Linked DNA regions of Homo sapiens. The protein of the gene in region 2 interacts with the protein of the main gene of each other region in a pairwise test. Each region holds a gene or a part of one and is shown on either strand. Other genes may lie near its edges.

Region 1 (5,376 bases), on a different chromosome or scaffold from region 2:
GGCTGGCAGAAGAGCGAGCTGGGCCCTGGACTTCAGGCCCAGAGCTTAGAGGGTGCCTCTCTGCACCCTGCCTGTTGCTGCTGCGGGCTGACACAGTGGTCACATGAGGCGCCCACAGAACCAGGGCCTGCTACCTCCTGGAGCTGTGGAGCTGGGGAGGAGAGTGAGCAGGGGATGGATAGGGAGTCCCAAGGACAGAGACTGATCATGGAACGAACTGTCCCCATCATGGCAGGGCTGCGTGACCTTTGAGGACGTGACCATTTACTTCTCCCAGGAGGAGTGGGTGCTCCTCGATGAGGCTCAGAGACTCCTGTACTGCGATGTGATGCTGGAAAACTTTGCACTTATAGCCTCGCTGGGTAAGGCTGTCACCCCTACCCCGGTGTCCCGAGCTCCTCTCTGCCTGTCCCCTTTGCCCAAGAAACAGCTCTTTCCTTCCCACAGCCAGACCGCTGGCACTGCTTCCATCCCCACTTTCCTGGTATGTGTGTTGTGGCTTCTGGGGCTGAGCTATGTGCATTGTTCCCTCCTCTCCCTGAGCTGCCCCCACACCTGCTGCCTGAAGCCTTGCAGGGAAGCTCCAGGCATGAGGGGTCTTGCGGTTAGCTGTGTGACTACCTCTGACTCGGCCATTCCCTCCTGGGTGATTATCCAGATCTGACAGTTCTGTGGTTTAGATTCTGTGCCTTTCCTCTTGCTAATATTTCCTAAGCCTGACTGTGCCAGGAATTCCAATCACTGATGTGGTTACTGCTTGCCGTGACCACCCAATGTCCCTGTGTCATACGGAGCTTCCTGTCTTGTAGTCTATCATGGGGTAGTTCAACTGGGCAGGTGCTGGCCACTGACCCACTCTGTCTTTCCCTTAGGACTTATATCTTTCAGGTCCCACATCGTTTCCCAGTTGGAGATGGGGAAAGAGCCCTGGGTGCCTGACAGTGTGGATATGACATCAGCCATGGCCAGAGGGGCTTATGGCAGGCCTGGCTCTGGTAAGCAGCGATGGGAGCTAGGGGAGGATGTGACTTCACCACTGTGTTTACATCATACCAGCATCTTCTCTCCTATTCATCATCATTTGATACCAATGCCAGTAGCCAGACCACGTCTCTGCTTTTCCTTCCCCGTGCTTGACACATTATCTACTTGTCATTATTATTCTGAGTTGGGCCCCTTGGCTGTGCCCCACTTTTCTGGCCTCCGTTTCTCTCTTTCAGCTTCCTCTGCGGCACTTTCCAACACTGGCCTACACTTAATGTGTTGTGAGATACGTGCTTTTCCTTGATGTGCTTGAACACCAGCTACTCAGTTGCAGGTTTTGCTGGGTCTAGATGCTCTCACTGCATAGCCCTCACAGGTTACCAGCAGCCCAGGCCCTGCCAAAAGGCCTTTAAAGAGAAGTGAGTGGGAGACCCTGCCTCTCTGCCCAATACTGTCCCCCATCCTTGTGTCCCTGGTCCTGATAAGGCCTCCTGTATTTTGTGACCTGGCCAGGCACAGTATGGCGGAGCAGATTATTCCTTACCCTGACCTGAGCCTTCTTGTGTTGCCAACAATCCCATGGGCTTATTCTTGGGTCAGCCAAGCATAGGTGATGGGGCTCTTTCCTTCTATTAAAGTTTATACGAACTTCACCAGCATTTCTCTGCTTTCAGATTTTTGCCATGGAACAGAGGGCAAGGACTTACCTTCTGAGCATAACGTTTCTGTAGAAGGAGTGGCACAGGACAGGAGTCCCGAGGCAACTCTGTGCCCCCAGAAGACCTGCCCCTGTGACATATGTGGCCTACGTTTGAAAGACATTTTGCATTTGGCTGAACACCAGACAACACATCCCAGGCAGAAACCATTTGTGTGTGAGGCATATGTGAAAGGCTCTGAGTTCAGTGCAAACCTTCCCCGGAAACAGGTGCAGCAGAACGTACACAACCCTATCAGAACGGAGGAGGGCCAGGCTTCCCCTGTAAAGACCTGCAGAGACCACACATCAGATCAGCTTTCCACCTGCAGGGAGGGTGGGAAGGACTTTGTGGCCACAGCAGGGTTTCTGCAGTGTGAGGTCACTCCCAGCGATGGGGAGCCGCACGAGGCCACCGAAGGTGTGGTGGATTTTCACATTGCACTAAGGCATAACAAGTGCTGTGAATCTGGGGATGCCTTCAATAACAAATCCACTCTTGTTCAGCACCAGAGAATCCACAGCAGAGAAAGGCCTTATGAATGCAGCAAATGTGGAATCTTCTTCACTTACGCCGCTGACCTCACTCAACACCAGAAAGTTCACAATAGAGGAAAACCGTATGAGTGCTGTGAATGTGGAAAATTCTTCAGCCAGCACTCCAGCCTTGTTAAACATCGCAGGGTTCACACCGGTGAAAGCCCTCACGTGTGTGGTGACTGTGGGAAATTCTTCAGCCGAAGCTCCAACCTCATTCAGCATAAGAGGGTTCACACTGGTGAAAAGCCATATGAGTGCAGCGACTGTGGGAAGTTCTTCAGCCAGCGTTCCAACCTCATTCATCATAAGAGGGTTCATACGGGCAGAAGTGCCCATGAGTGCAGTGAATGTGGGAAATCTTTCAACTGCAACTCCAGCCTAATTAAACATTGGAGAGTTCACACTGGAGAAAGACCTTACAAGTGTAACGAATGTGGGAAATTCTTCAGCCACATTGCCAGCCTCATTCAACATCAGATAGTTCACACTGGCGAGCGGCCTCACGGGTGTGGTGAGTGTGGGAAAGCCTTCAGCCGAAGCTCTGACCTCATGAAACATCAGCGAGTTCACACTGGTGAGCGGCCTTATGAATGCAATGAATGTGGGAAGTTATTTAGCCAGAGCTCCAGCCTCAATAGCCATCGGAGACTTCACACTGGTGAACGGCCTTACCAGTGCAGTGAATGTGGGAAATTCTTTAACCAAAGCTCCAGCCTCAATAACCACCGGAGACTTCACACCGGCGAGCGGCCTTATGAGTGCAGCGAATGTGGGAAAACCTTCAGGCAGAGGTCCAATCTGAGGCAGCACCTGAAAGTTCACAAACCAGACAGGCCTTACGAATGCAGCGAATGTGGGAAAGCCTTCAACCAAAGGCCTACCCTCATTCGGCATCAGAAGATTCACATCAGAGAAAGGAGCATGGAGAATGTGCTCCTTCCCTGTTCACAGCACACACCAGAGATAAGCTCTGAGAACAGACCTTATCAGGGCGCTGTCAACTACAAGTTGAAACTTGTTCATCCAAGTACCCACCCTGGGGAGGTTCCCTAGGAATGCTAGCTGTGTTGGAAGCTTTCTGGAGACAAGTTACATTCTCTTACTGTAGAGTTTATCAGCGTTTTTTCACTGCTGGGGTTGTGATAGAAGCCATGTCAGCACCACACACTGCAGCTCTCCAAAGAGTGTGTCCACCACTCCACTGTGCTCAGGGAAGGCAGACCTCTCCTCTCTCTTTCCAATCCCTAAAGGGAATTAGGAGTAGTCTGAAGCCTTGGGAAGATGTCATTCCCGCCCTGTATGGCTGGTTTAGCCATGGACATGACCAGCTTTTGGCTGTGAAGACCTGAGCAGGGTTTTGCCAACAGCTTGTTCTAGAGAAGGTTTCCCTTTTTCTGGGACATTGTTGGTCTCATGTTATGCCTGTGAAGGATTTGTCCAGCCTTCATGTTACTCTACACAACAACTTATCTCCTGTGTATTGCCCTGGTTCATGTGATGATAATGGCCTTATGATAAAGCCGCCTTTAGTCTTCCATGTTCTGATCACTGTGTGGGGTGGTTCAAGAGCAGAGTTAAGATCTACCAAACTGAAGGGGTCTCCAGATTATCTTGGAGGGGACAGGAGGATGGCAGAGAAACAACTGTCAATCCAGATTTGACCTCATTTGCATTGCCACCAAGGCCTCCTAGGAAAAATTGTAGGAATTTATGGGTATAATATTGTGGTCTGAATGGCGTGAATTTTTATCCCGAGGAGGGGGCAGTTGTGACAACCTCCAGTGCATGTGGGAACAGCATGAATTGGGTCCCTTATTCCCAGGGGGTGCCCCATATTCCCCAATACTGTAAAGCAGATGCTGTTTAGCACCTGCCAAGGAGCCATATGCCCTGAAGTTCAGCATTAGGCAGGTATCTCTTAACTGTAAGACATACCAGGCCCAGCTGGGACCATAATTTGTACAGAAACACTGGATGTGATTAATAGGGAGTAGGCGAGATTATAGCAAACCAGCAGAAATGGAACTCTGCTAAATGTGCATCCGTGAATGCTCCCTTGAATGTGGCTGTGCAGGATTCAGGGTTTGCAGAAATTCTCAGGACCTCAGACCTCTGTCCTATGACTAATGTTACTGGCAGAGCAAATAATCTAAAGGTTTTGGTTTTGTGGATTACCATCTCCGTGCTGTGCATCTGAAGGCCAGTGCTGTGCTGGCAGGAAAATAGGGACTGAGAAAAAGCAGATCCTATACTATAGGGACTGTAGTATCTATGACGTAGCCAGCCATTCTTTGCTCCCAAGGCAAGAAGAAAGAGATGACAGAGTCAATATAGGGTTGCCAAATCGGATTTTCTAAAATGAGTAGGAAGTTGGATTTTTATGTGCAACAGTTTCTTTTAATGCTTTGTTGATATGTGATTGTCATGCAATAATTATTCATATTTGGTAAGTTTTGTACATATATTATGTACACTCAGGGAACCAATACCATAATCATGATAATGAACGTATCCATCACCTGCAAAGCTACCTCATGCCCCTTTACATTCCCTCCTTGCCTTCCCTAGGAAACCGTTGATTTACATTTTTTACTTTAGATTTGTTTGCCTTTTCTAGAATTAACACAATTGGAATCATAAAGTATTTATACTCTCTTTTGGTCTGGTTTCTTTCATGCAGCATAATTATCTTGAGAATCATCCATGCTGTGTGTATATATAGTTCATTCCTTTTACTACTGAGTAGTGCTATACTGGGTGAGTGCACCATAGTTTTTTATGGTTTATTTAAAAATGTTAAAAAAATCTGATGAAATATACTTAACATGAAATTTACTATCCTAACCATTTTTAGTGTATACTTCAATGGTATTAAGTAGATTCGTATTGTTATGTAACCATCACCACCATTCGTCTCCAGAACTCTTCAATCTTGCAAAACTGAAATTCTGTACCTGTCAAGCAATAACTTCCCATTTTCCCTTCCCCAGCCCCTCAAAACCACCATTCTACTTCCTGTCTGTATGAATTTGACCACTCTAGGTACCTCATATAAGTAGAATAATAAGTATTTGTCTTTTTGTAGCTAGCTTATTTCACACTTAGCATAATATTCTCAAGGTTCATCAATGTTGGAGCATATGTCAGAATTTCCT
Region 2 (7,120 bases):
ATCCCTGGATGAAAGGCACTGAATAAGTGCACAGTATTGTTATTCAGATATGGAATTTAATGATCCATTATAGTTCATCAGGAAAATGCACTTTGCAGTGATGGTAGGAAATGTTTCCACCTGATAGAGGGTAATAATAACTGCTTAAAAGTAGATTCAGATTACAGATGAGACAATTAACTCTAGCCATGTGCTCTTCAATTTGTTGCAATTCATTTTGTGATCAAAGTGAGTCACAGAGGGCCAGATGGTCAGGTTCATGTTCAGATCTCTCCTAGGCCAGCCCTTCACTTCTGGGCCCACTGTCTGCACAGCCGACAGGACTTAGTTATTCATTAGCGCTTGTGAGCTGTTTCTCAGAATTCCTAATCGAGGCTCCTGTGATGCCAACAAAAGGGCTCAAGCCAATCTGTATTGTTGAGAGCAGTTTAATTTTACTTGGATTAACTTTCAGTGTCTCTGGTGTGGATCCAGTCTTAACAAAAAGGAAAGAGACCCTAGTGGCTCTCTATCTCTGCTGTGCCTGGCCCCTCTACTCTAGTTTTTGAACCTCAGATTTCAGGGGTGTGACATCTAGCTTATTGTAAATGCAGGCTTGATTGTTAATGAATGAGAGAATACTTAGATAAATAAATATCTTCCTGTGTGTCCAGGGGGTGAGAGCCAGTACTAGCTTCATGGGCATAAGACCTGTGCAGTTACATAGGCCCCCTTCCTCTTCCCTGCTCAGAAGGACCTCATATTTGGTATAAGGTTCTGCTGTTTTCTTCGGAAATTCTTAATAATTTTTGAACAAAGGGCCCCTCGTTTTCATTTTTCACTGAGCCCTGCAAATTATGTACTTACCTGGTTCTGGTGAGGAGCAGGGCATAGTGTGGAGTGGCAGGCCGCCCCTACTCAACTCATTGTAGACTCTTGCTAGGGAACAGTTGGTAGGACTACTGGCTTTGTGTTGCCACATCATTTGATTTTTCCAGGGGAAGCTGAATATTGGATATTTATGTGGAATTTCCTGATTTTTAAATATTGGCTCAAATCTTTAAAAAATTTTTGGATGAAAGCATATGTAAGAGCTAGTGTCGGCCTGGGGGCTGCTTGTCTCCCACTACTGAACAGACTGAAACATCTTTTTTTGTTTAATATCTTTGTGTGTCTCTGTTTTCTAAAGGCCTGGCATATAGTGGATGATTTGTGAGTATGCACCCAATGAATGGTTACAACTACCTGGAAAATAGAAAGATGCCAAAAAAACAAAACTTCAAATCAACATTGAGTCCCACTCAGGGATTGATCAGCTTCCTTTTTAACAGAGAATTCGACATGAAAGGCCGAATAATTTAATACCATGAGTACAGTGTGATTCCTTGCAGGTGAATAATCCATTACTTTTGAACCACCTGCCCTCTATTTAGTTGTTACTGACCAGATGGGGTAACTTGGCTGGGTAATGCCTGAGGACCTCCATGGGAGTTTGACATTTGAGAACACTCACCAAAATAATAGTTTTGATTTACTGAATCCGCACCATGTGCCAGACCCAGTGCTGACTACCTTGCCTGAATGTACTTCATTGATTCCTCAAAGCAACCCTTTGAAGTAGGTGTCGTGCCTGCCCATTCTGCAGAGTTGGAAGAACTAATCTCATGTTGGAATGAACTTAATCTGAATATAGTGCATGTTTTCTTGAATGTCTGAAGGTTATTTCCCCATTCCATTACACAGTCCAGTCCTGAATCAATGACTGGGCATGGTGTAGGACTGTGACATACAGAGAACATGGTCCCTGCCCTCACATAGAACAGAGAACAATATAAAATGTAACATATTTGTCAAAATCTGCAATTCAGATAGCAGACGCTGTAAATCTGCCTCCCTGTTTTTCTCCTTTCCCTGTCTGGATGTTGAAGAAGTTTCAGCGACATATGACCCTGTCAGAGGTACTCACAGTTCAGAAGTCAATGCTGGTTGCAAAAATTGGAATTTCTTTGGAAAAGAAGACAAGCTTTTGGCAGAGCTGGGGCCACATATGGGAACGCAGCACCAAGGCCTTGGGAATGACGGAAAATCGCTTCTGTATTGTTAATAGCAATATATGACCTCTGCTGTCCTCCTATCTTTAAATTTTATGTAAATATTTACAAACTGTTCATGTCCAAACTGAAACCTGCTATGAACTAAACATTTTGTAAACTCAGTAAGATTGCCCAAAATACAACTCAACTTTCACCTTTTTTTTTTTGTTTGTGATGACATTTAATTTAAAAAAAAAAGACAGTAGTTGCTTTTTTTTTTCTTTTTTTTTGTCAGTTCAGGGTCTTTTAATTTTTTCCCTTTACTTTTTTTTTTGTTAATTTCAAATGTCAGTCTATCTAAAACTGAAACTTAATTTTACTATCAGCATGCTACTCAGCTTCCGTAAGGCTGGAAATGTCCTGCGAATCTTACCACTATGTCTTTTCCAAGGGCCATTTCATTTCTAAAGAATGTATAAATTGAACCTCATCCTGCTAGTGACACTACTTCAAAATTCAGGCAGGAATTTTGCCATTTGTTTTTCCTTGAGCTATTTTTTTTCCAAAATAATAAATCTTCCCAATCCAAAAGCATTTCACATCATCCTTCATTCTAGTCATTGGAACTACAGCCAAAATGCCTCTCAGTCTTCCCCAGTGACTTCATAATCACCGTTTCTTCAGCATATTCCCTGGTTGACTTCTCCTTTGTTCCTTAGCCTCATAATGAATTGCCCTTTGGTTCTGAGATGTGTCATTTTCCTCCCTGACCTTTTTGTTCTTTTCCTGAAGGCTGTAGGACATGCTGCTGCTGATGTGATGAGAGCCGGCGCTTGGTTGCTAGGTCCCTCCTGTCCTTGTGTCAGCTTTCATTGGCTCCTTTCCTAAGCATTTAAATCCTCCACTTTCCAGTCCTCCCATTCATCTCATTATTCTCTTCATGTGTGCCTGAGCCTGTAGCTGGCATGTAGACAAAGTCCCAGTTAGTTAGAAGAAAGCTTTTCGAGTTTCCAAGTCTTCCATCACTCTAGTCTTGGGCCATCTTCTATTCTCCCTCCCCTGTCACTTTCTGCAGATACTTCAGGAATTTCCTCAAGACTTTCCAGGAGTCTAACCCAAAGACAGCTTAGACCTTCACTTCGGATTTTAAAGTTGGGAGATCCCAATGTGATGATTTCCATTCCACAAGTAGGAAACAAAGTGAATGTACATGCTCAGCATCTTTCCTTAGTATTTCAGTATCCATAGATTTTTGGCAATTTTTCTTTTTTTCCTATCCTGTATTCTTCTAAGCAACAGAAGCTCGTGGATAGTGCAAAATGGGCCAAGTGTCCAGAAATACTGTTGCTTAGAGGCAGATGCCTCATTCATTCATTAAACAAATATATACTGAGTATCTCTTACATGGCAGGCATAGTGTTAAGTGACCACAGTGCTAATGGGGAGCAAACCCAGTCCTGGCCCCTGGTCTCATGAAGCACGTCATCTGGTAGGAAGAATGGCACTGATCAGTTAGTAACAGATAACCCACTGCTCGTGAAGGAAAGTATTTCATACACCAGAGTGTCTAATGGGCAGATTTAACCTGGTCGGGAGGTTGGGGAAGCCCTCCCTGAGGAATTGTGGAGTGACCTTCCATCAGGGACAGTCTGAAACTTGAGATTCACTTTTTCTCCAGCTTCCTAATCCTATTAATTCACTACTATCTTTGGCCCTTTGGAGTATTGCCTAAGCCATGCTGGAACCTCTGGGGCCATTTTGGCAAATAATAGTTCCTGTATACAGAGTCCAGAATTGATTTATTTACCTGGGTCTTTAGAACCTGATAAAAACAGAAGTTAACTGCCAAGAGTACTGTTCATTTCCATACTTGGAAAAAATACAAGTTAACATTCTTATTTTGAACATATTTAGGTTGGTTTTGACAATATTTGAATGATCAGAAGCTACAAAGATATTCTCTCCCAGTCAGCTGATGTGTGTAGGGCCTTTGGTGAAAAAGTGAGTCTAAATAGTCTGTCTGAAGTCCCTGGCTACTCCAGAGCAGAGGGTCTCCATCCTCTGTGGCCCGAAGATTATTCCAAGCTTGTCCAACCCATGGCCAGCAGGCCTCTTGCGTGTTGAATGCGGACCAACACAAAGGTTTTTTGTTTTTGTTTTTGTTTGTTTGTTTTTTGTTTTTTGCTATTTTTCTTGTTTCAGCTCATCATGTATCATTAGTGTTGAGTGTATTTTATGTGTGGCCCAAGACAGTTCTCCTTCTTCCAGTGTGTCCCAGGGAAGCCAAAAGATTGGACACGTCTTATTTAGACCATTCTTAGATGCAAAATTAAGGAATTTTGACAGCATCTATTTAAAATAAATTGATTATACTTCATGCTAACACCCCTCTATTTTCTTTTTCTTTGATGATAGTTAACTTGTATTGAGAGCTTCCTCTGTGTGCTGCTCATATTAACTCACATAATCCTCAGAACAACCCAGGGCTAGGTGTGATCACTAGAAGCCGCAGCATAGGTGTCGCTCAGCTAATGAATGGTAGAACTGGAGTTGGACACTAGCTGTCTGATGCTTGGGCCTGTTCTCTTACCATGTTATGGCTCTCCCTTTTCCTTTTCTTCTTCATTTGAAGTTGGAACTCTCTTTAGCAGTTCCCAGAAGTAGAAATAAAGGTCATCTCACTCTAAAATATTGGATGTTTTGTTGACATCTATCTTAAAGTTAAAAAATAATTTCTCAGTAAATCTGAGTGAGTATATCTCCTGTCTTTCACATGGCCTGCTTTCTAATAATTGCATTCCTTAGGTTTTAGTGTCCATTTAGGGATCGGAAAGTAAAAGTGATGCATATAAAGGCAAAAGAAGTACTAGGCATATAACTGAAATACCATGGCTCTGTCTCCAGGGTTTACTTGTAACTCACACTCCTACCCTCTTGTTAGGTGGAGGGAATTTGTTTTTTGCGTTTTGTTTTTTGTTTTTTGTTTTTTTGGTGGGTAGGAAAAGGTAAAAAACTATACCTGTAAGAGGTAGAGTATTCTACCAAGGAGGAAGATGTTCATTCAGAACTAATTCCATCAGAAATCCTAATTAGAAATATTAGCTACCAGTAACAGATAAAAGGAGGTAACCTTTGTTCTCATTCTGGTCAATTTCAGGAAGAGATTATCTTGCCAGATTAGCATGTTGCAACTCTCAGCTGGAGATTTGAATGGTTTTAAAGGACTCAGGCAGTTGGTATGGCAGTAACCCCCAATTACCTCAGGTTTGCAGGGTCACTGTTTAGAATGCTGACTCAGCTCTGCCTGGGCCAGACACCGAAGTTGTCATCTTTAGTCAAGAAGCATCATTCTCAGGAGCCACTTGAAACATTAAGCACACATTTGAAGCTCAATTTGGGAAATGATCAAGTGTATGAATGTATAGTACTGTGCTTATTTTTCAGCATTTAGTTCAAATTTTGGAGAAAGCTAAATGGGAGATGCTTAGTGTGTCAGTGTTGGAGGTTTTAAGTGATTTAAAAAATCAAGCAGATGAGTGCATAAAGATTTCTATGCAAACAATGTTGAGCTTAAATTAAAGCTGCTGATTTAGTGTGAGAATTACTTGCATTGATTTGTAGAATATCTATGTGGGTTCAAGATTCCATATTATGCAAATGAATAAGCCCTGAAGAGTCAAACTGAAAAAAAAATGAAATTAACTGTGAAAGATATTATTACCCATTCAGCAAGAGGAAAATGTAGACAGAGTTAACCCTTCCTTTTCATACATTTTCTTGGGAAGATAAGTGCCAGGGATGATGGTCCGTGTCCCAGATGTAAAGAAGCTAGGCACGGTTTGCAGCCAGTTCCCCCATCCTCCTTCTGTGCTCACTTTTTTGTTTCATGCTCTCTTACCTTTTGGCCACCCAGTCCCCTCAACTAGTCCTTGTCCTTCCCTTCCAAAACCAATCTCAGAGAAAGATTTTATGAACACAGTTTTACTAATATATAAGTAACTGAGCATACTTAATGTGTTACTTTTCTGAAGCATCAGCATGTTAATAGGAGACAAAGCCAAAGAAGTAAAACCCTAAAGATAAAAACAATAGAATTTCGCACACTGGTAACCTGGTGATAGGAGACCATTTCTGAATGGAGAGAGGGCTCGTGATAAATAAACACAACCCTAGGCAGAGAATATAGGCAAATGGATTACAGTATTTAAATCAAAGTAGTATTAAAATACAAAGAGAAGATTATTTTTAATAATACATTTGTCAGTGAGCATTTCCCGCCTTTTGCCGTACATTGGAGTTGATCACATAAACCTCTATAGCAAGATGGTATGTTATTTAACATTTAAACAAAGCTTCCAGGGAAAGCCATTTGGTTTGTGGTTAGGGATTTTTGTTATTCAGTAGCAATGAACCTGAAATTCTATATTATCTTTGCATGTTGAATTTTAGAAGAAAAAAAAAGCAGCGGATCCAACTTCACTTACCTCCCCACCCCAGTTGCATTGATACAAATTGAATTGATAAATTTATTTCAAAATTGGTGTGTCCCAATTTGACATACCACAAGCATAGTGGTGTCAGCATGGTGGTGACATCTGGACATTAGGAGAGTTGGTTGATTAATTAAACTATACTTATTTTAGATAGAGTTGTTGGCAGGTAAATACCTGGCTGTAGAGTCAACGCCCTTCAGTCCCACCTCTCCCCCACCATACCCTTCTCCAGCAACCATGCTATGTTGAGTTGATGGCTCCATCTAGTGCCAGTCTGTGGAACTGTCTTGCAGGACTTCACTGTCACCTCCAGAGCTGGGTATGATGAAGAGTCCTCTTTCTCTGGGAACACACTGTCTAGCGGGGAACTGCCCTCTAGTTCCTACCTCTCCTTTGTTTTTGCAGTTTAGTTATACCTCCGTGTCTTTCTTTGTTCCAGACTTAATTTGTTTCCCTCTCTCTAGTACCCCCTCTTTGTACTTGTTTCTCCTCCTTTTTTGTTTTCCAAGTCTCAATTTTTTTTTTGGAGAACAAAACAGTACTTAAAACCGGTAAGTATAAAGATTTTTTTTCTAACAATACTTTATGCCAAAGTAAGAGAATTCTATGCATTTT
Region 3 (7,697 bases), on a different chromosome or scaffold from region 2:
TTATCCTTATGGGTCAAGGGAAGCTTCCAGGTAGGGGCTGGTTAGGACCAAGAAAGCACTTACAGTGAGGGGAGAACCAGTCTTAAGGCATGATACAGGTAAAAGGGGAAGAGAAATGGGGCTTCAGTCTCTTCATTCATTCATTCAGCAAACGTTGTTGCCCATTCAGCACCAGGTTCTCTGTAAGGTACAGGGAAAATGGAACAATAAAGCAGTCCTTGCCCTCAGGGAATATAGACTTAGAAGAAAAACAGGTAGCCTCTCATTTTCTGTTAATCCAAAAAATATTTATTAAGTATCAAGCACTGAAGAAATAGCAGGGAAGAAGTCAGACAAGTTCTCATCCTCATGGAGTTTACAGGCTAGTGGTAGGAGACACAGCTATTAAACACATAATTATACAGGTAATTAATTGCCATTGTGATTACTACAAAGAAGTGCAGAGTGCCAGGAGAGTCAGTTAAGAGTGCTGGAGAACCAGCAGGAAACCAGGAGGGCGCAGACCAAGAAGAAAATTACAGAGGGGAAGAACTCCAGAGGCAGCACCTGGGCCCAGCGGGTGTCAGCAGGGCTCAGGTCAGAGAGAGGCAGGACCTGCATGGAAGCTGAACAGGGGAGGCAGGCGGAGAGTAGAGAGCAAGTCATCTCTGCAGGAAGTGAGGAGTGGCCTCATGGAAATGGGTGGCGGCTCTTGAGACCATCCTTTCTCCCTTTCTTTCCTCCCTTTCCTTCCTTCCCTTCCTCCTTTCCTTTTTCCTTTCCTTTCTTCCTTTCTTTTTTTTTTTTTTTGAGACAGGGTCTTACTCTGTTGCCCAAGCTGGAATGCGGCGGTGCCATCAGAGCTTACTGTAGCCTCAATCTCCCAGGCTCAAGTGATCTTCCCACCTCCCATCTCAGCATCCCAGAGTAGCTAAGCCTGTAGGTGCACACCACCATGCCTGACTAATTTTTGTAGAGAAGGGGTCTTGCCATGTTGCCCAGGCTGGTCTTGAGCTCCTGTGCTCAAGCAATCCTCCCACCTCAGCCTCCCAAAGTGCTGGGATTACAGGCGTGAGCCACTGCACCCGGCCTTCCCTTGCTTTCTTGCTGATCAAAAATATTTATTGAGTATGCCATTCTGAAAACATTAAATTATTATCTTATTTGCCCACTGAGGTAGGTACCATCCCCGTTGCTACACAGACAAGGAGGCCAAGGCTCAGTAGGGTCAAATGTCTTGCCCCATCTCAGGTCACAGAGGTCTTGTGTGGCTGAGCTGGGGTTTAGACCTGGATCTGCCTTATTGCTTAGCCACAGGATTCTCTACTGCCCGGTCTTGATCACGGAAAAGAAGCTCTTCAGATCACACCCCTCAGCCTCACCATCATCTAACAGGTGAAGAAGAGAAGCTCCGAGGGGTAAACCAACTACCTGGTCCCCATTGTAAAGGTGGTGAGTGTCTGAGGGTTCTCCAAGGAAGTGCTCTCCCTGACCCATGAGGAATGTTCACCCTCCTCTGCAGAGGCAGCCAGGTAGAAGGAACCCTGACCTACTGGAATGATCTGGAAGTCAGTGGACATCTTGGGACTGTTTGGAGAGACAGGCTCCCCCTTCGACGGTACTGTTCAGGTAGTGAGGCATGTGGAAGGGACACACTAGTGGGTCCTGATTAGAGGAGGAAGAATGAGGAAACCGCAAATAATTCATATATTTTGTTTAAGGGAGACACATGAGTTATGTGTGTGTATAAAGACTAACAGGTGCCAACAGTCAACAGGTTTTGCCAAACTCTGAGGATTGCCAGGTGGACCAGAGCCAAGTCCTGCAGCTGGACTTCTGGCAGAAAGGGTCCCTTGTGGAGGCCAGAAGGAGAAGCTGGGACCAGTTATAACCTGGCTATCTTGGCTCTCCAAGTGCTCAGGAATCTGGAATCAATGAGAAGCGGAGATTCAGGCCGTATCTGTCCAAGGAGGGGGAGAAGAGGAAAGAATGGGAAGGGAATTAACTTTTACGGCAGACTCACACATGCCAAGCACTTCACAGGCTACCTCAATTAACACATGACATGGCGAGGAGGCTGGAGATGTGTTTTAGCCATGTGCTGTGGAAGAAGAAAAGGCAGAACACAAGTATTGGTAAGCTATCAGCCATCACCCTCACATAGGCTGACCCCCACGATGGGAAGCCCCACACCTTTTTTTTTTTTTTTAAGAGAGGGTCTTACACTGATGCCCAGGCGGGAGTGCAGTGTGGTGATCATGGCTCACTGCAGCCTTGACCTCCAGGGCTCACGCGATCCTCCACCTCAGCCTCCCAAGTAGCCGAGACCACAGCCACGTGGCACCACACTCAGCTTTTTTTTTTTTCTTTTTTGTAGAGATGAGGTTTCACTATATTGCCCAGGCTGGTCTCACACTCCTGGACTCAAGTGATCCTCCTGTCTCAACCTCCCAAAGTGTTTGGGATTACAGGCATGAGCCACCCCACCTGGCCAGAAAACTCCTTCTTAACTGTGGATTGAAGGGCAACCCCAAACTTCAACAAAATGTGAATTGGATCATTTCATAAATGCTGCTGAGGAAAATGGGTAAGTGTGGAATAAATTAAAATGAGACTTGTACATCACTCCCTAGACTTCTTGATTTCAAGGGAGCTAACGAGTTAAATCATTTAAAACTGCCACAAAGATTATGGGAAAACAGAAACACATATGCACCTCAACTGTGGAGGAGTGACAGTTTTTTAACTAAAATTAGTAGAGACCATGACAATCAGCTAAACAACAAGAACGAAAAAAGCAAGGGGCTGGAAAAATATATAAATGATGAGTTTGGTGACCCAGTTAGGTGGGAGAGTAAATATAAACTATGAGGGAAATACCCAGCATCCAATGGACAGACAGAGGGCCAACAACTTTGAGACACTTGGCAGAGGAGGGTCAAAAACTCAGGAACTATTTTAGTCTTTATAGTACTTAATGATATGCAAATATTGTGTCACAGCCAAGAAGACCCTAACTCTTATCAACGAATTTAGCAAAAATCAGTTAAAATGATGAGGCCCAAGGCTGATCTGTAGGAAAACCTCTGGGCATAAGAATCAGCTCAGCAGTCCGGAGGAAACCTGACAAGATGATGTATTCCTGTGCCCTGGGTGCACACGTATCTCACCCTTGGGGACAGATCTCAAGAAAACAACTCAAGTGCAATAGCAATTCAAGAGCGAGACTACCTGTCTGCCCAGGTGCCTGCAGTTATAGGCAGGTTGCCTAAAATCCTATGCTTGGATGTTCTGTTGCTATAAGAAGTCAGAGAGACAAGGGAGTTCATCCCAAGTCTGCCATTTACTAGCTGTGTGACTTTGGATAAGTCACTCAACCTCTCTGAGCCTCAGTTCCCTCTTGGATTAAAATGGGAATAGATCGCCACCTCCTTAGGTTGTGTTAAATGAGGTCATGGCTGTCAAGTGTCTACACAGTGCCCTGCATGGAGTGTTTGACAAAGGGTAGCTGTTGCTATTGGAGGATGACCACTGGACAGATCCTGGAGAGACAGTTCCTGCTTGCAAAGGATGAAGTAACATCAGGAAGTCTCAGCAGCTTTCTATCCTGAAGAGGAGCTGGTATCTTTGCCTCCTAGTTTATTTTTATTACAAAGCCAGAAAAAGGAAAATAAACCTCTGCCACAACTACTGACTCCACCAAAATGCAAAGGGAAGCTCTTCAAAGAGTGTTACATTGGTCTAATGCTGGGAGGAAAACGCTGGGTGAGGCTCCCACTCCCACCCAACGGTTTGAAGACTGGGGTGTCCCCAAGGGTCTGGAAATGCACATTTTTTGAGGCATGCTCTGTGACATGGGTTTTATAACAGTGAGTTGGGAATTTTCACCTCCGTTTTGTTTTTGAGACAGGGTCTTGCTCTTTCACCACTGCTGAAGTACAGTGACACGATCATGGCTCATCGCAGCCTCGACCTCCCGGACTCAAGCGACCCTCCCACCTCAGCCTCCCCAATAGCTGGAACTACAGGCATGTGCCACCAAGCCTGGCTAAGTTTTAAAAATTTAAATGGGGCCTCCCTATGTTGCCCAGGCTGGTCTCAAACTCCTAGGATCAAGTGATCCTCCCGCCTCGCCCTCCCAAAGTGCTGGGATTACAGGCGGGAGCCACCTCCGTTTTGAGAGAGAGAAAACCTGCCCAAGGTGGTAAGTCAAGAGACCCCCTATGACAGGTCCCCAGAGCCCTGCTGCTAACCACTGCACCTTGCTGCCTTCAGCTGCCCTGCCAGGAGCAGCTCGGGTGCGTGGCATGCGCCTGAAGAGATGCAGGAGGGAGGGTCTTGGAAGGGAGGGCTGGGCTGGGGGCAGGCCCCCCAGTGCTGGGGGGGTCGAGGGTCCTGGGCTCTCTCCCACCCGTTCGATTCCGGGAGCCCCTGAAACGCGCCCCACTGCACCGCCCTTCTCCCGCCAGCAGGGGGCGCCGAGGAGAGCGCGGGCTGAAGGCAGAGCCGACGCCGCTTCCCGGAGTCGGGACTCCGGGGTCCAGACCAAGGCTGCCGCTAGCCCGCGGCGAGGCTCTGGGACGACAACCGGGCGGGACTCAGGACCCCGGGCCCTGGCTAGAGGTCCGCCGCGCAACGCCACCACCCGGGTTGGCGCCTGCCCGGAAGCGCGGGCGTCCAGGGGGCGGGGCCGGGAAGCGCTTCCGGGGGCGGGGGGCGCGGGCTGGGGCGGCAGCCGGAGCGGCGGGGACTGGCCTGGCGCCGGCGGCGGCGGAGGGGGCGCCGCGGGCGGGCGATGTGAGCGCGGCGCTCTGGACAGGTGAGGCACGCTGGCCGGGGGCGGCGAGCAGCGGGCTAGGCGCGGGCGGGGCAGGCGGGGCAGGCGGGGCGGGGGGCAGTCCCCGGGCCGCTGTCCGGCTCCCTCTGGGCGCGGCGGGGCGGGAGCCTCCGCGCCTGGTCAGTCCCGCGGGCAGGCGGCCGGCGCGGGCGGGAGCCGAGGCCGGGCGGGGTCCGGAGGCCCCGGGCACCTGCTGGGGTCAGGCGCGCGTCCCCGAGGGGCCAGCTGTGCTCGGTCCTGGAGTCCCGGCGCCGCTGGCCCGGCTGAGGGTCGCGCTCGGGCAGCTGCCCTGGGCTCCCAGCCTCCGCCCGGGGCGTCTCGGGATCCCCAGCTTCCGGGCCCCTAGCCCTGGGGGCGCTCCCTTTTGTACGGGGAGGGAGGGCAGATGGTTGAGTTCCCTGGAGAGCCGGCCGGGCCAGGGGTCGGCCCTTCGGGTGGCTGCCACGGAGCCGCTGCCTCACGCCACCGCCTTCCTCCAGGTAAACAGGCGGCGGCGACGGGTTGCGCTTGGCCCCAGACGTCTCCGTGGCCACTCGCGCTCAGTTGGTCCTGCCATTGCGGAGGGCTGGGCTGGGGCTGACCGGGGTTGTAAACAGTGCCCTTCTAGGCCAAGTGGCTGTGCTTTCAGGGCGGCACTCGTCTGGGAGTCTCTGTCTTGAGGCCTTCCGCAAGCCCCTTCCATGCTAGGACTCAGTTTCCCCATGTGATCATTGAGGGTTTCATTTAACTCTCTAAGAACCCTTCTGGCTCTGCCATTCCGTGTATGTCTCAAATTGGAAGGGCTGTCCCTGATTCAAGATACTGGGCAGTTTCGCTGAAGACTTTGTCAGTGTGGACTTTTTAAGCCACTTACTGCATTTTGTTTCAGACAGGCTTTAAAATGATTTCAAGAAGCGTTTTCTAAACCTCACCTTAATCCTCATTCATCCCTTGCTTTTGTCCCTAGTAGTAGTTAATCACATTCCGCCGAGTTTTTGCATGCAGAATTTTTTGTTGTTTATATTTGCCCATTTTCTCTTTGTTCCCTAGTCCAGGCCCTCTTTGCTTCACATCTGGATTATTGCAACAGCTTCTAAGCTGGTCGCTGACTCCAGAGGTTCCCCCCTCCCCCATCCTTCCTTTATGCTAAAGCCAAACTTACTATAGGAAGTCAAAAAATAGTTGAGTGCTTGCTTGCTTATTAAATGGCAAGATGCTGTTCCATGTGGTGGGAAAGTAGTAGAAGGCACACTTACAGTCTCCAGGCAGCTTTACACAGGGTGCTGAGACATTACTTATGAAAAGGTAATTTTGATGAGACAAGGCTGTGTGCTGTAGAATTAAGAAGGAGAGATGGAGGTCACTGTAGGCCGAGTGGTTAGGGAGGGTTTAGTGAGGGGCGGGATTTGAGCCGGGTGTTAAAGGATGAGTAGCATTCAGATAGGAAAAGAGGAATCAGGCCCAGTGATCCTATGGAGTTAGTGAATAGACCAGTCTCCTGGCAGAGAAGGGTTCATATAGGAGGGAAGTAGGAGGAGAGGTGGGCCGCGGCTAGTTCCTCAACTCAAACACTAGGTCAAAGTTGAAACTACTGAAGGCATTGGTGAAGAAGCTAGAGGCCAGGAGATCAGTTAAGAGGCCACGGCAGTTATACCACTGTTCAAAGCTGAGTAGTGGCCTCTTGCCTGCCACGGTATGTCCAGCCACCGCCCACCCTGTCTTTTCAAGACTCTCCGTGGTTTGGCCCCACCCCACCTACCTGAACCTTATTCTCTGCTTCTCCAAGTCTGTCCCCTGCAGAACTGAGTTAGTTACGGCTTCTTGGGTTTTGCTTCTGTTGTTCCCCCTTCTGAAGCACTGGCCTCCTTTTTCTTTTCTGTGCAAATTCTCCATTTCACTTCCTTCAAGCCCCTGCTGCAGATATACTTCCTCCAGAGGGTGTTCCCTGACTTCCCTGCCCCCATGGCTTTGTGGCACTCGGATTCAGCACTTGTTCCTTGGCTGTTGAACTTGTTCTTGTCCCAACTGGAGTGGGAGTTTTTTTAAGGGCATTGTGTCTTAATACTCCTCTCGGAGACCTTATAGTATCTAATACTGGGGCTGGACTTCTATAATAGGTACTCAAATACTTCCTGATTTTTGTTGGTAAACAACTTTTTGTTTTGTTTTGTAATTTGCCTTTTTTTTTTTTTAAGGAGAATCTGTTTTTATCAGCTTTCTGTGTCATAGATAAGTGATATGTAATGCTACCATTCAAGGTGGATGTTTTCAGCTTGCTCTCTTAGGGTGCAGAAAGCACAAAACGAATCTTTGAAACTTTGAAACGTTTCCCTCTGATCATGGGAAAAGGTAAAAGTCATGTGATTCTTCATTCGGAGGCTGTGGGGAAAGAACAGCAGCTTTGGAATCAGAGACCTGGGTTTGAATCCTAGCAAGTCTGCTTACCAGCTCTGTGAAGTTGAGCAATTTATCTAATGCCTCTGAGCCTCCGTTTCTTATTTGCAGTGTGGAGGATAATAAAATCCAATGAACTGTAAACGAAAATGGAACGAAGTAGAAAAATGTGCAGCACCTAGTAACTGCTTAGTACATTTTCATTATTGTTATTGTCATTATTGGGTGTACATTTATCAAGGTGGAGAAATGATAAGCTGCTGAACTGTGTACCTACTGAGTTTTGGATTTCTGCACCGCTGTGTCCCCCCACTTTTGCCTTCCATTTGAAGCACTTGTCTAAAATGTCAGTACCATGAATCTAGTTACGTTTTATTCCCGTTAATGTTCATGTTACTTTAGTTTAAATTCTGCTTAATGTTTTTCAAACTTCTTAATTGTGTCTATTTAATGTTTTGTAGCTGACAAACTGCTGAATTTAGCTTAGTGAAGGTCATCAACTGAACGC

The links. The genes of interacting proteins can lie anywhere in the genome.
Region 1: the proteins of BACH2 (region 2) and ZNF792 interact in binary tests that used the Homo sapiens proteins (3 or more experiments, as listed by UniProt).
Region 3: the proteins of BACH2 (region 2) and ZBTB34 interact in binary tests that used the Homo sapiens proteins (3 or more experiments, as listed by UniProt).

Annotation. Positions count from the first base shown.
Region 1 is NC_000019.10:34,955,854-34,961,229, reverse strand, and holds the end of ZNF792 (zinc finger protein 792), read left to right. Parts: intron 1-235; coding exon 236-362; intron 363-872; coding exon 873-995; intron 996-1,658; coding exon 1,659-3,274; 3' UTR 3,275-4,876; downstream 4,877-5,376. UniProt on the Homo sapiens protein: May be involved in transcriptional regulation.
Region 2 is NC_000006.12:90,286,733-90,293,852, reverse strand, and holds part of BACH2 (transcription regulator protein BACH2), read left to right. Parts: exon of another isoform or gene 1-1,370; intron 1,371-1,907; exon of another isoform or gene 1,908-2,603; intron 2,604-7,120. UniProt on the Homo sapiens protein: Transcriptional regulator that acts as a repressor or activator. Binds to Maf recognition elements (MARE). Plays an important role in coordinating transcription activation and repression by MAFK.
Region 3 is NC_000009.12:126,855,942-126,863,638, forward strand, and holds the start of ZBTB34 (zinc finger and BTB domain-containing protein 34), read left to right. Parts: upstream 1-4,697; 5' UTR 4,698-4,798; intron 4,799-5,237; exon of another isoform or gene 5,238-5,295; intron 5,296-7,650; exon of another isoform or gene 7,651-7,697. UniProt on the Homo sapiens protein: May be a transcriptional repressor.